3 separate regions of the Homo sapiens genome follow, and regions 2 and 3 are each linked to region 1. Evidence: fine-mapped expression QTL. A gene starts in region 1. Each other region holds a variant in brackets. All regions are shown on one strand. Distances are from middle to middle. Region 1 holds the start of S1PR1 (sphingosine-1-phosphate receptor 1). Region 2 has its middle 42 kb from the start of S1PR1. Region 3 has its middle 32 kb from the start of S1PR1.

Region 1 (5,229 bases):
TGGGCGGGAGTGAGCTTGTAGGTGGTGGCCCCAGACAAGAGCAGGTTAGCTGTGTAGGCTACTCCTGCCAACAGGTCTGAGAGGGCCAGATTGCCAATAAAATAGTACATGGGTCGGTGGAATTTCTTGGTTTTCCAAATGGTCAGCAAGACAAAGATGTTCTCCAGGATGATAAAGCAGCAGATGAGAATGAACACCACCGAGGTCAGTTTAATGCTGTTCTCCTTGTCCGCGCTGATATTCAGCTTTCCCGTGTAGTTGTAATGCCGGACGATGATATCATAGTTGACGTAGTCAGAGACCGAGCTGCGGTGGGCCTTGACCAGCGGGACGCTGGTGGGCCCCATGGTGCCAACCCTGTGTCCCCAGGAAGCCGGGGTGGCGCTACTCCAGACGAACGCTAGAGGGCGAGGCGAGAGAGCCTTCACTGGCTTCAGGGGTGGTTCGATGAGTGATCCAGGCTTTTTGTGTAGCTTTTCCTTGGCTGGAGAGGGCCTCGGAAACCGCAGCCTTAAACAAGTCAGAGGAGAGAGTCAGGGAAAGAGCCACAGCATACTGGCATAATTCATTCTAGCTAAGGCACTGCTCCAATTGTGTTGTTGTTGATTTGTTTTAAAGAAACTTGGGGAGAGCTCAGGGAGAGAGATTTTTTTTAAAAATCAAATTATCTTTTTTCTTCCTTTTTTTTCTTTTTTCAAAAAAGGAAGAGGGGGAAGAAAAAGAGAGGGAGAAACTCTATGGCCACATTCACTCAAAGGGAAATGGGAATTACGATGTTGGCTGTGGGTTGACAAAAAAAAAAAGATGATGAAAAGGAAAACAAGGAGTGGGAGGAATGGGAAACCTAGAGAACTACACCCCATTTTAACTCCACTCCTGCCCTCTCACCACCCCACACCCCCTCACCCCCGGATTTCCAGCCATGAGATTCTCTGAAGCAGTCACCAGCTTAGCTGCACGCTCAATACCAGCCCACGTCTCTCCTCGGAAAAGACTCAACTGCCAGTCTGAGGGCGAAGACACACACCTCTGTCCCCCATGCCCACCCCCAGCCCCCCAGTTCAAAGATACTAGCACCACCTCCTAATTGCCATGTGCCATGCAAGAAATCAGATTTGCAGGAAAATCATTTGAAAGCGTAAGCCATTTGGGGGCTCTATTAATAACTCTCTAGGAGCAGGTGTGCTTAGGGTCCGAGGGCGCAGTGAGGTGTGGGCAGCCAGGCCCGCCCCGCCTTGCTGTAAACAGGAAAGCTTAGCGCCTCCGTGAAGCGACTGCCTTTTCTTTCTTCTTCTTATTCTCCCCGCCTCCCCCCGCGCCCCCCCACCCCACCCCCCACCCCAAGCCAGGGCAAGTAAATTTAAAGGTATTCAGTTAAAACCATTCATAACAGATTGCAGCAAATCCCAGAAGTTTCGTACATTAGTTGATTGCATAAATATTTTTTGCTTTGTTTAGTTTAGCCAAAACATACACAAAAGAGAGAAATCAAACTACTCATGACAGCCATAATACATGCTACCACATTTCTAATTTCGATTGCAAAACTACTCTTCAGAAACTCACATTAAACTGCTCCCTGGTGCATTGCTAAATTTGCGTGGGCAGTTTTATTTACTGCAGTCCCCCAACACGTTGACTCCTCTCCTAGGACTAGAAAGTTACAAAGAAACTTTCTAAGACGGCACTGGTCAGCAGAAGTCTACTTCTAAGTTGCTTAAATATTTCAAGGTAATGCAGCAATGCAATAAAATGAGGTAATAGAGATGAGAACAATCCCAGCAACTCCGCGAACAGCAGAGGCTGCTCAAGCCAAGAAGCTCCGCATTTTCCCCCAACTAATTTTATACCCTGCTCCTGGGCAGTACTAATTTAAGCCATTACCCACGCTCCACACCACCCACCATATTCTTTGTCTATAGGATTTCCAAAATTTAACGCCTTCCCTCCTATTCCTCCGACCAACTGCAATTTTCACTGCCCCTACACCCGTAGGTTCCACAGTTGGGAATTAACCTTTTTTCTGAACTCCATAAATCACAAGTGCCCAAGAACAATCTGATCGAGATGGGCTCCTTAGTAGCCCAGAGATGCAAATTTTCAGCGCCCGGAGATGCATGTTTTCTAAGTTTTTGTTTGCCTCGTTCGACTTAAAAATTCGTTTCTGACACCTAAGCCCTACCACAACCGGGCTCCCCGCGCCCGCGACCCCCGCCATTCGCCGCCCCCTACCTCGCTCAAGCAGGGCGAAGTTGCGTTCGGAGAGCCCGGGATCTGTACGGCTCGCTTCGCATCTTGCTGCTGCCCCCGACTGACTGCGTAGTGCTCTCGCAAACTTACTCGAGTCGGGGTCCCCTCCCTCCGCAGCGGAGCACTCCAATGGCCAGTCCCGCTCGCCGCGGCCAGTTCCCTGCCTGCTACGCGAAGTCACCCAGCGCCGCGCCAAGGCTGGGTGGTTTCTTCAGGAAGAGGCTGGGAGGGGTTAATGCCTTAACCCCCCACGCCCTCTGTCAGCTGGGGGCCCCCGGATCTGAACTGCTGAGACGCACTGTCCAGGAAAGATCTGGGGCAGAAGCAAAAAAAAAAAAAAAAAAAAAAAAAAGAACCCCTCCTCCCCAAACAACAAATGAAAGAAAAAAAGAGAGAGAGAGAAGGGGCGGAGCCCGGTAACCCCTGGATTCTACTGTATAAATCACTGCCCTCGCCCAGATAGACGCTGATCCCTGGCTGTGGAGAGGATTCTCCCGAGCCCCTGAAAAAAAAAAAAGGTGGAGAGACTTTGAAAACTTTTCTCTCGAAAAGTCTGAGGAGGCAGAGGACGGCCCGGAGTCTCGTAGCGCACCGCCCTGGTCCCACACCCCCCGCAGCCCTAGGAGGATCGGTGTGCTGAGCTTGTGGCCAGGAGCTCCCCGAGCCACTTTCGCGCGAGCAGCAGAAAACCTGAGCCGCGGCCCGGCGAGTGTCGGCGGCGCTCTGGGGAGGAGAGGCTGGGAAGGGGCTGCGAGAGGTACGGAGGAGACAAGCAGCCCGGGAGGGAGAATGAACCGGGAGGTTCCTGTACTCCCCCCGCCACCCCAGATCCTCGTGCTACTCGCAACTGCGGTCTGAGGGGCAGTGGCTTTCCCAGAGTGCACAGAGAAATGAACCAGCGCCGGTTTTGGTGTTGGGCGAGGGGTTTCCCTCAGCTGAGCACAAAGTCAGGCTGTGTGTCCCAGATTCTGGCCAATGGAGAGGTCGTTGAGGGGGTGGGCTGCTGCTGAGTCCTGAGAGATTCAAAACGCCTGGGCAGCTCAGGAATTTCCAAAGGGGGAGATTCTCGGCCAGGAGCTGCGGAGCAACTGCAGCTGCCCAGCAGGAGCCGGCACCCTTCTCTCACATTCTGCTTGGGAGTCGACTCAGAGGCCTCAAATCTCATTACTAGCACTTTGCCCACCCTTTTCTTTTGCTTAGATGCTACTTAAGAACGTGAGGCTGAGAGGCGGACTTGGTCAGATCTGCCTGCGTGACAAGCTCAGGACAGGACGCTTCTGCCCTTGCATTACTGTTGTAAAAGTTTCCACCCAGTCCCTGGTCGCACTGCGTTCCCATCCCGGCAGATGTGAACTCAAAAACTTCCTCCGCTGTGCAGTTTCAATTGGCAGACACACCCTGTACCTGAATGACTCAGAAGGAGGCAGAATGAACAAACAACAGACCCCTGACTTCTGGGATTTTGTGAGTTTGCCAAAAAAAAAAAAAAAAGAAGTGACAGTTAATTCACAGCTGTTTTAAAGCATTCATCGACAGCGACGCACCCAATACATACCCACAGCTTCAACAACAGTACAGTGCATATAATGTGGAAACCAAGATAACGGTCCTCTAAGACTCCAGAGTAGATCCTAATTGGATTTGAAGACTTATTTCACTTAAAGGGGAAGAGGTATATTGTGTCTACCCAGCACAACAAAACGGGGGACTTGGCATTCCCCCCCTTCTCCCGCCTCCACCCACACTAATTTATGCATTCTTTAAAGCCAAAGGAATCAAAGTGAAATTTCACACCTAGTCTGTATCAAGCATGTGCTAGGTTAATTTAACCTTACTGCTCTGTGAAGTAAGTAAGCATTGCTGGCCATTTTATTGTTGAGAGAAGTGTCATTCAGACAACTAAGGTGACTTGTAGATTTCCCAGCTAGTGAGTGGCAGAGCTGGGTTCCAAAACCTAAATATTGCAAATGCCTTGCCTTGTGGCTCAAACGCTATCAGTCAATAAATAGTTAAGGAATTGAAATATATGTTCCTAGAGGGAAACAGACTTCTAGATTTAAAGTTTTACATTTGCTGCATTTCTGACTGTACAAGTCTACAAAATGCATATAAAAGTATGCTAATGAATGTCCTTTTAAAACCACTCATTTTCTACGTAAGCATACAAAGTGTATACATATGCATATTAATGAATGTTTTCTGAAACTTCTCATTGTCTGCCTATGATATCTCATGTAACATTGTACTTTTAGTATTTGCACATAGTGTTACACATATTAATCCATTTAATCTGACAAGTTAGGCACTATAATTATTCTAATTTTACAAACAAGGAAATTGACTCCCAGACATATTAAGCAGCTTGCTTAATGTGGGACAGGCTGCAGACTCTTAACCACTACTCCAGACCACCATGATAAACCTCAAACAGGTTCAAGAATTTCCTTGGGGATATCAGTTGTTTTCTTGTGAATACCACTGGTTTTTAACATTCAATATTGATAAAGTGTTTTACAGAGTCCAAAAACCTTTCAGATTGTTATTTAATAATATTCATCTTTAGTACACACCTATGAGATGTAATTGTAGATGATCAACTTAGGTAAAATTAGATAGTAGGCAAATGTTTCCAGCAATGGCGTCCTGGCCAATTCCAAGTCTCTAGTTCCCATATAAGTCTCTTCCCATTGCTCTCCAAGGAGGCCCTAAAAATTGCATTCTCAAGCTATCTCCTGACTGCCAGTACAACTCCCTGTCTGCTGCTGCCTAGAAGTCAAGCCCAACATTCCTACCTTAAGTTTGCTCCATTTCCAATTTTTGATTTCAAAGTGGCTTTGTTGTTCTTTACACATGCTTTAGTGTTTCTCTTTAAAAGTTTACAGATAAAATACCACACAATCTTTGGAGCATACACTAAACAAAAATTTGTCATAAATGTGCCATTCAAATGTAACTGTGTGAGCTATCTTTTTTTTTTTT
Region 2 (5,229 bases), 42 kb before region 1:
AGCTCTTCTGGAATATCAAACTGTAAAAAGATAGTAAAACCGTGCAGCTAAGGTCTGTCTGCAGCCGAGTTGTAAAATCTACTTTTCTTACCCCATCTTCCTCTCACAGACACTTCTTCCTACCTCCATCCTCAGCCTCACATTCTGGGGCCCAGCTTTGAGTCATCTTGACTAAGGATCCATCCTCAGCCTTGGGTCTTGGTCTGGTAACAGGGCTCTGCCTTGGTGCCTGTTTTGGTCCTGTTCATGCTGTTATAGGTATTGTCCCAATACTCCAGGTCCCTCTGCTAGAACACCTGGGCTGCTCTTGCCAATCCCCTCCCAAAGAGATTCCTAAGCTGTCAGGCCTATGGCTATTGCCCTGGTGCCTACTTGCAGACAACTGTGCTTTGAGAACATACCAGAAGCCCACTGCCAGCTTGTATGGATCTCTTTACAATTTGCCTGCTGGATTCTGATGCAATATGCTGTCCCCTCAGGCCCCAAACTTTGCAGTCAGATGGAAACTTTCCCAGAGCCTGAGGAGTCCAGGGGTCCCCCATCCCTCAGTGCCTGCCTTAGCCCTAGTGTCAAATTCAGTTCTATAGCCAAGCTTTTTGCTACATGTACCTGAGACAAGAAAACAAGACAAGCGGAATGTATTTTATGTCTATATAGCAGTTTATAATTTACAAAATTCTTTCACATTATCTCATTTGACCCTCACACCAAACTCACGATACAAAAAATAAGAAATTTCCGTATTTTATAGATAAGTGCAAGTGACTAACTGGGGCGATCAACTGTCCCAGTTTGTCCAGGATTGAGGGAGTTCCCAGACTGCAGGACTTTCAGTGCTAAAACCAGGACAGTCCTGGGCAAACTGGGATGGTCAGTCACCCTAGGTCACATAGCTAGTAAATGACTGAGCTAGGATTTGAACCTAAGGCACCTAGCCTGTACTTATTACACTTATTGAGTTATTGAACTCAATAGTTATTATTGCTAATATTATTTAACAGTTATTGAGTTATTGAGCTCAATAACTGTTAAATGAATGACAGACACCTAGTCTGTCTCCTTTCCACTGTGCCATGTGCTTCTCCTAAACAGCAGTCTCTTCAGACTAATACATAAAGGTGTTGCTTGCCTTCTTTCTTCTTGAAATGCCAATCAGTGGAAAGGAGAAGGGAAACACTGCTTTGCAAGAGAAAAGCATCCTTGCATTAACTCCATGTCAGAATAATCACTGACAGTAATAATTTCAACAAAGGGATTAATTACAGAGTCTGTAATTATCTTAGCAAGAGCTTGAAATCAAAAATGATTGTGATGGGCCACTAACCCAATCAATATATGCACTCTGCCCTGGGATAATCTAAGACTGACTGCATATATGAATATTCAGTACATGTAAATTTTAAATCCTACCATCAGATAAAAACAAAGAGTTGTAAGAGATTTAGTGGTCAGTATACGTCCTTCCATTCAACCTTGACTTCACTGAAACCATCTCAGAAAAGATAACAATTGGTGCTCCTTTTAAAGATGTCCCTCTGAGGCAAGCCCAAGAGCTTCTTCAGGTGCCACTTTCAGCCACCACTGAATGATGAGTACAGCTTAACCTAAGCTTAACCTTTACTTAGCTTAAGCTAGTAAAAGGAGTTCTGGATATCAGAGCTTGTTTACTTTCCCTCTACCAGACTCTCTGTGCAGGACACAACCTCCAGTTTCCTATCCCCTCAAACCCCTGCCAACTCAAGCTCTCCTCTGTCACCCAGGATGCCACTATCCCCCAAGACTATGTCTAGCCTTTCTTTTGACATATTTCCTTAGTTAACTTATATAATCTTCTGGGATAATTTTTTTAAGAGATAGAGTCTTCTCTGTTGCACAGGCTAGAGTGCAGTAGCACAATCATAGTTCATTGCAGCCTCAAACTCTTGGGCTCAAATAATCCTTCCTCTTTCAGCCCCCCGAGTATCTGGGATTACAGGTGCATGCCACCAAGCCCAGCTAATTGTTTTATAGTTTGTAAAGACAAGGTCTAGCTGTTGCCCAAGCTGGTCTGGAAGT[C/A]CTGGCCTCAAGCAATCCTCCCACCACAGCTTCCTAAAGCACTGGGATTACAGGTGTGAGCCAACACACCCACATCTTTCGGGATAGTTAATTCCAGAGATTTGTATGCACCCAACATTTAACTTTTTTTTCTTTCTGGATATCCATCATTCATTCAGCAAACATTTAGGAAATGACTATAATGTGTCAGGCACTGTGCTAGGTACTGAGGCTAGTCGCAGAAAAGTTACAGGAGTTCCTAAGGCAGTTAAGGGAATACAGAATAGAAAAGTCATTCCTGGAAAAGAGGACAGCATCACATATACAAGACAATATGCTCAGACAACTACAAAATAAGTTCAAAAAAGCAGGAGGCAGGAAGTCTTTAGGAGTTGGCACCCATGGCCAACTGGATAATTCGGTACTTTTCCAGGAAGTCTTCTCTGGCTAATCTCGAGAGAACCAATAGCTTCTGCCCCTCACCTTGAATAAACATAAGGCATTCAAGACCTCCTGAGGCCATCCTCTCTTATTTTCCAGTTTCCAATTGTTTTCCACTGTGAAAATATCTTAGCTCCTATTTGCATTTTCTTTTCCATCACTCTCTGTATATACCCTATATACTAATCGACATCAATGTTTTCTGCCAGCAACCACTGGGAAGGGTGGAGTAGCCGTCGCTTCCTGAGACCCAGGAAGAAGAGAAAACCATGAGGTTATCATCTCTGTGCTATGATTAAGCTACTGTGTGTTTCCTTCAAAGTCTGGTTAACCTAACTTAACACAACCTCAAATACCTGTCTCTGTGAAGCATGCTCTATCAACTGAAGGAACAGAATCCCTTACACTCCCAAAGATGCTTTCCAATGGCAGAAAGGGAGCTAAGCAGAGGACTGGCTTAATTCAGGCTGTATTAAAAGCAATACCAAGAAAGGGAAGGGAACTGAAAGAAGGCTAGGAAAAACAAGGGAGGAGGAGAAAGTGGCTCTCTAGAAAATGTTCCTGGTTTTCAACACTATTACGGGCATGACAATCATGTGCCTGCTCCACACACAGGCTTAGCTAGAAGTTATTCCCCAAATCCTACCTGCCAAGCCTAAGCTGATTGGAAAAGTGATAGGATCTGATCCAAGCTCTGTCACCCCACGGGCTGGACAATGGCCTGTGAAGCAGCCTCAGCATGATGATACTGATGGCTGTAATAATAGCAGCTATGATGCATTAGGGGTTACGATGTGCATGGTAGATAATTTATCTCATTTAATCCTCGCAACAACTCTATGGGGTACATACTATTATTATCTCCCTTTCACAGATGACAATACATGTTTCAAGAGGTTTCACAAGTCTGCCAATCTTAGAGGATTGAGTCAAACTCTGGTCTGTCTGATTTCAGAACCAAACCCTTCCTCACCTTTCAGTATTGCCTTTCATTCATGTATTTATTTATTTTAAAAAAATTTCTTCTGTACCCGCTATTAACCAAGCCCTGTGGCAAGTGCTGGGGATACAATGGAGGCCAAGACTTAAAAAGACCCTGCCCCCTGGGGCTTATACTGCACAGAGGAGATAGATACACAGTAAGCAAATAACACAAATAAGTACAGGCTGCATTCAGTAGTATGAAGAAGACGAAGAGTTTGTTATGATAGGTATAGGGGAGGCCGGGTGTGGTGGCTCATGCCTGTAATCCCAACACTTTGGGAGGCTGAGGTGGGCAGGTCACTTGAGTTCAAGAGTTTGAGACCAGCCTAAGCAACATAGCGAAACCCTGTCTCTACAAAAAATAAAAAAATAGCTGGGCGTGGCGTTGCATGCCTGTCATCCCTGCTACTCAGGCGGCTAAGGCTCAAGGATCACTTAAGCCCAGGAGGTGGAGGTTGCAGTGAGCCGAGATCGTGCCACTGCACTCCAGCCTGGGTGACAGAGCAAGACTCCGTCTCAAAAGAAAAAGAAAAAAAGAGAAAGAAAGGAGAGGTGTAAGGAGACTTACTTAGATAGGTGGTTAGGGAAGCCCCCTCAAGGAAGGGACATTACACTGAGATCTGAAGGATGTGACAGAGCCAGTTATAAGGTGACCTGAGAAAAAGGCAAGGGAACAAGATGCAGAACAGGCAAATCAAAGAAGAGACAGAGGTCAGTGAGGCTGGGTGTCTAGAGAGCTTGGCAGAGGCTGGATGTCACGGGGCCTTAAAGTCCACCAGAGGAGTTAGAACTGGCTTCCAAGTGCAATGGCAAGCTACGGGATAGAGTAAAGCAGTGGAGAGTGGAGATGGCTGGTTTACTTTTTATTAAAAAGAGAAGGGGCATAATGCAGTAGTTAAGAAGATAGACTCTGGACCGATAATGCCTGCACTCAAATCCCTGACTTGCTGCTTACCAACTCTGTAACTGTGACAACCTCTTCTGTGCCTCAGTTTCCTTATCTTGGAAATACAGACACTAACCAAACCTGCCTCAGAGGGCTGTTGGAATGATTAAATTAATTGCTATTTGAAACCACGTAGAATACTGCTTGGTATCTAGTAATAAACATGCTTACAAAATACATTAATAAACATAATTAATAGATGTCTTTACAAACATAACAACATAAATTTGTTTTGCAGACGTACAGAAATGTAATATCAAAAGCATGCTTTTCTTTCAGTGAAGCCTTTCTGCATTGTTCTTTCTCTTTCTTCCTCTTTCTCCCGCTCCACTACATCAGCAACTGCTCCTCCTTAAGGTAATTTATGTCAGGAACGCCATATGTTTCCGACCACAGAATTCTAAATAGGCAGACATAAGATTTATGTGCATACACATATGTGGCATTCTTTTATCTTTGTTTTGCAAAAGTTAAATTATTATGTACAATTGACCCTTGAACAACTCAGGATCTAGGGACGCCGACCCTCTGCACAGTCAAAAATCCATGTATATCACCACCACTAGAAAAAAGAAAAAGATATTTTGTATGTTATATGGATTATATATGTATTCTTACAATAAAGAAATAAAGAAAAGAAAATGTTATTAAGAAAGTCATAATGAAGATAAATATATTTACTATTCTATTCATTAAGTAGAAGTCAACCATCATAAAGGTCTTCATCCCTCATTGTCTTCATAAGTAGGCTGAGGAGGAGACGAAGATGAGGGGTTGGCCTTGCTGTCTCAGAGGTAGCAGAGGTGGAGAAGGTGGAGGAGGTG
Region 3 (5,229 bases), 32 kb before region 1:
TTGCAGACACCACCACCACCGGGAGCCCAGTACTACCCACCATGGTCAATTCCACTGTGTTCTTTGACATCGCCATCAACAGCCAGTCCTTGGGCCTCATCTTTTTCAAGCTGTTTGCAGACAAATTTCCAAAAACAACGAAAACTTTCATGCTCTGAGCACTGTAGAGAAAGGATTTGGTTATAAGGGTTCCTGCTTTCACAGAATTATTTCAGAGTTTATGTGTCAGGGTGGTGACTTCCCATGCCATAATGGCACTGATGGCAAGTTCATCTACGGGGAGAAATTTGATGATGAGAACTTCATTCTGAAGCATACAGGTCCTGGCATCTTGTCCATAGCAAATGCTAGACCCAACTCAAACGGTTCTCAGTTTTTCATCTGCACTGCCAAGACTGAGTGGTTGGATGGCAAGCATGTGGTCTTTGGCAAGGTGAAAGAAGGCATGAATATTGTGGAGGCCATGGACCGCTCTGGGTCCAGGAATGGCAAGACCAACAAGAAGATTATCATTGCTGACTGTGGGCAACTCTAATAAGCTTGACTTGTGTTTTAACTTAACCACCAGACCAATCCTTCTGTAGCTCAGGAGAGCACCCCTCCACCCCATATGCTTCAGTATCCTATAATCTTTGTACTCTCATTGCAGTTCCCTTTGTGTTCTCTCTTTTCCTTATTCCCTTTCTATGCCTAGCTGGATTGCAGAGTTAAGTTTATAACTATGAAATAAAAACTACATAACAATAAAGAGCATAACATTATCTGTAAGTTTCTCATAGATGCCCTTTATGAAATTAAAGCATTTTCTTTCTATTCTATTCTTCCTTTAGTGAAGGTTTCTAATCATGAATTGATGTTTTATTTTGTCAAATGCTTTTTCTGCATATATTGAATATAACTATCATAGTTTTCTCTTTTTCTCCTTGATGTGTGAGTTTCATTGATTGGTTTGAAGAAGACCTTGAACTAAGCTTGCATTCCTAAGATAAGCTCTACTTGGTAATAATATATTATCCGTTTTAGGCATTGCTCAATTTGATGTACTAATGTTTTGTACAGAATTTTTGCATCTGTGTTCATGAGGAATACTCATCTGTAATTTTTTATTTCTTTGTTTTATTATCTGTTTTTAAAATTTATTTGACAGGCTTTGATGTCAATATAATTCTGGCCTTGTGAAGGAAATTTGGGGCAGTTCCCTTCTCATATATTTTTTAAGAAGTTTGCAGGCTGGGCATGGTGGCTCATGCCTGTAATCCCAGTCTGAGGGAGTCTGAGGCAGGAGGATCACTTGAGTCCGGGAGCTTGAGACCAGCCTGGTCAACACAGGCAGACTGTCCCTACAAAAAAATTTGAAAATTAGCCAGACATGGTGGCATGCACCTGTAGTCCCAGCTACTCAAGAGGCTGAGGTGGAAGGATTCCTTGAGCCCAGGAGTTTGAGGGTGCAGCGAGCTATGATTGTGCCACTGCACTCCAGCCTGGGCAACAAAGCAATAACCTGTCTCAAAAGAAAGAAAAAAGTTTGTGTTAGATTTGTATTATTTCAGCTGGGCATGGTGGCTCACACCTATAATACCAGCACTTTGGGAGGCTGAGGTGGGAGGATCACTTGAGATCATGAGTTTGAGACCAGCCTGAGGAACATAGTGAGACCCTGTCTATACAAAATATTTTTTAAGGCTGGGTGTGGTGGCTTACACCTGTAATCCCAGCACTTTGGGAGGCCAAGGCAGGTGATCACTTGAGGCCAGGAGTTCAAGACCAGCCTGGCCAACATGGCAAAACCCCATATCTACAAATACAAAAATACACACAAAAAAATTAGTGAGGCATGGTGGTGCACATGTGTAATCTCAACTACTTGGGAGGCTGAGGCATGAGAATTGCTTGAACCCGGTAGGCGGGGTTGAAGTGAGCCGAGATCTCACCACTGCATCCCAACCTGGGCAACAGAGCAAGACTCTGTCTCCAAAATAATAATAATAATAATTTTTAAAAAGTTAGCATGGTGTGGTAGCACACGTCTATAGTACCAGGTACTTAGGAGGCTGAGACGGGGGATCCCTTAAGCTCAGGAGTTTGAGGCTGCAGTGAGCTATGATCAGTGCCACTGCACTCCAGCCTGGGCAACAGAGTGAGAAGTCATCTCCACTAAAAAAAAAAAAAAAAAAAAAAAAAATTTATACTATTTCTACCTTAAATATTTGATAGAATTCATCATTGAAACTATCTGGGTCTATGAGATCAGCTACTTCTGGATGATGCGGTATGAGAGAAAAAAACATATTCATGGGCTCACTCCTGTGCCTCCTTCTTTGAAGTGGGTTCCCTGCTCAAATGCTGTGTTTGTGAGAGTCCAGGCCTAGATGTCAGTAATTCTGTAAGCCCCCTAGAGAGTGGTACTAGCTGAGATTTTGCATTCCTGGAACCAGTATTTATCTCTGTGAGAATGAAATTCTGACCGTTCCAGAATTTAATAGTTGATTTGGTGGCAAATCAACTACTTGGATAGAAGGGGCCCAAAGTAGCTGACTTGCCACCAAGTTACGGGTTGTCTTCCTGGAGGATCAGTGCCATATATTGCCATATTAGTGGTAGGCACATTGGTCTACGCCACTGAAAGTTTGAATATTCAAAAGAGGCAATAGCTATATCGAACCTGGTAAAAAGTCCATGCTGTTGACCTATACGTAGCTTCCATATCTGCCACTATAGCATTTCTTGTGCTGGTTGCAGGGTGGCCAATGACAAAGACTAGCTAACATCAACTGTCCAAATAATGTTAAATAATTGGTTGCTCAGTGCCTCTTTGCTGGTGGATGTGTGCAAGTGAGGGTTAACGTGTGATACAAAAATCTTTACACTTTATGCCCACTTTCATATTTCCTCTGCCTCCATATATCTACCTGAGACTTCCTTGTCTTCAGTCTTCTAGTCCTTTTCCTTCCAGCCCCCTTAACAGACAGTTAGGCCATTTTCCACTATCTAGGATTTTTCATATATTTTTGTTTCAGGCGACTTCTTTCACAAAAAGTGGATGACTCAGTATACTTACAACAGGTCTGCCCATTGGAAATTTCACTCTCCACTTTCAAGGCCAA[C/T]TCGGATTGTACCTATAATACAGTCACTGTTTATAGTCAGCTTGCACACACATACTGAGACCAATCATTGACAAACCAAGATCATGCTTTTTCCTCCTCTATCAGCTGGTCGTATGAGACCCCTTATGTGGCCATAGGTGTAAGCTGGGAAATAAACACTTGTGCAACTACGGAGAGTGATGTACTGTATACTCATGCCCTCTGGTCATACTTGGGCTTAACCTCGGAAAAACTATTATGATGAACAGCAGCTGGGCCTGCTCTAATTTGTGATTTGGTAAGTCCCACCTCTGACATTTCCAGCAAATTTGGGGTCAGTCATGGGCCCGAATGACAGAACTGCTTGCACCACAGCCTTGCTTTAGTGGACAGCTTTTTCCTGCTCTGGGCCTCACTCAAAGCTAGTGGTACTTCTAGGTGTATAGTGTGTTATCTTATACACCCACAAATGAAAGATGCCTGTCACACACTGAGCTTCCTTCTTTGTGATAAGGGATGCAAGATGTGCCTCTTAATTTGAAGGGGATAGTCCAATGTTCCCCAGACTACTAGATCCATACAAACTACATCAAAGTGAGAGGTCAATAAATCTTCATAGTGTTTATCTTGCAAGTGTCTTATGAAGTCTTCTAGAGTATTATCCAGTCGGCATAATGTCATTGATGGAATGAATCAATATGACTTGTAGCGAAATTTCAAGAAGATCCAAATATCTTCAGATTATATTGTGGTAAAAGGAAGAGGGTCAGCATAGCCCTGGATCAAAGCTGCAGTTGAATATTACTCACATCACATGAATGCAAATTATCTCTAATCTTCTTTCTAATTGGAATAGAAAAGAATCCATTTCCCAAATCAATGACCACACACCACGTACCTGAAATCTCATTAACCTATTTTATCTCATTTATCTAGCAATAAAACCACATCCAGCACAGTAGCTACAACTGGGGCTATCACTTGTTTGAGCTGTGGTTTTCTGCTGTTATTCTCCAGAATCACCCAGTTTCTGCAGGATCCAGACTGGTGCTGCTAAATGAGGATATGAGAGTGAGTAGTGACCACCATCCCTGCATTTTTAGATCTTTAATAGTAGCATTAATCTCTGCTATTCCTCTACTCCAGGGTGCAATTTTTCTCCATTTGCTGCCTTGGCTGGGGGAAGGGGTGTATGGACGGTTTCAAGAGGTTTCCACTTGGCCTTCTCCACTATGATATGGCCTTCCCCACAGGTCAATGATACAAAGTGGGGTTCCTCTGACTGCCAGTATGTCAATCCTAGTTATGCACTTAGAGATTTGAGAAAGGATCACTGGGGGTGTCTATGGACCCACCGTAGCTAGAATTTACACAGGCATTTATTTGTTACCTGGCCTCATCAAACTCCAATCTCACGGGGGCAGAAGGAGGACCATGATGACACTGTGTCTCTGGAGATGAATCAAATTAGACAATGTGTCCTTTTTTTGGGGCAGGGACTTCTGAATTAAGATGATCCTTCAGTGCTATCCCAAGTTGAGGTGAGAGAGTGGTGCCTTTGTACCCCTACTGGATCAGTCATTAGGTGTTAGCTGCCCTGAAGAGGCCTTATCTCTGAATATGTTTGCCCAAGATTCCCAGCACCATAGCTATTAACTCCTTGTTCCTGAAGGGACATTTGGGCAATGGATCACAGTATCTACTACAGGAATGTCCTTAGAAACAATGTCTGTAAGAGAGTAAAAAAGCATGATTGGGCGGAGGGAGAAGTTGAAGTGTGATGCAGTTGTAACAGAGTCCTCAGCAAATCCAGGGAGCTCTGGAACTGGCATGACCCTTCAGAGTTGTCCTGAACTCTTGTACTCTTTGTACCAGAGTTTGTACTCTTGCTTCAACCAGCATTGAATGCAGGCTGCCCATCAAAAAGGGATATAAAGCCGGTTGCCGTGGCTCATGCCTGTAATCCCAGAACATCAGGAGGCTGAAGAGAGCAGAGATCATTTAAGGCCAGGAGTTCGAGACCAGCCTGGCCAACATGGTGAAACCCCATCTCTACTAAAAATACAAAAATAATCTGGGCATGGTGACACATGCCTGTAGTCCCAGCTACTCAAAAGGCTGAGGCACCAGAATCAGTCGAACCCTG

Evidence for each region. PIP is the estimated chance that this variant, and not a neighbour inherited with it, causes the effect.
Region 2: its variant is the best candidate, but not a certain one, in a credible set for the expression of S1PR1 in whole blood (TOPMed, PIP 0.58).
Region 3: its variant is the best candidate, but not a certain one, in a credible set for the expression of S1PR1 in NK cells (Gilchrist 2021, PIP 0.54).

What each region holds. Positions count from the first base shown.
Region 1 is chr1:101,234,103-101,239,331 of GRCh38, reverse strand. It overlaps S1PR1 (sphingosine-1-phosphate receptor 1), which reads right to left and starts at 2,313. Exons shown (of 2, transcript NM_001400.5): 1 at 2,233-2,313; 2 at 1-510. The coding sequence starts at 347. S1PR1-DT (S1PR1 divergent transcript) reads left to right here and starts at 2,804. Exons shown (of 2, transcript NR_104626.1): 1 at 2,804-3,007; 2 at 3,451-4,459. RefSeq lists enhancers at 451-500, 3,134-3,223.
Region 2 is chr1:101,276,559-101,281,787 of GRCh38, reverse strand. No RefSeq gene overlaps it. Among named protein-coding and RNA genes, the nearest start is that of S1PR1, 42 kb to the right of the region's middle. The variant C/A (reference allele first, on the strand shown) is at 2,056.
Region 3 is chr1:101,266,181-101,271,409 of GRCh38, reverse strand. It overlaps the pseudogene PPIAP7. Among named protein-coding and RNA genes, the nearest start is that of S1PR1, 32 kb to the right of the region's middle. The variant C/T (reference allele first, on the strand shown) is at 3,105.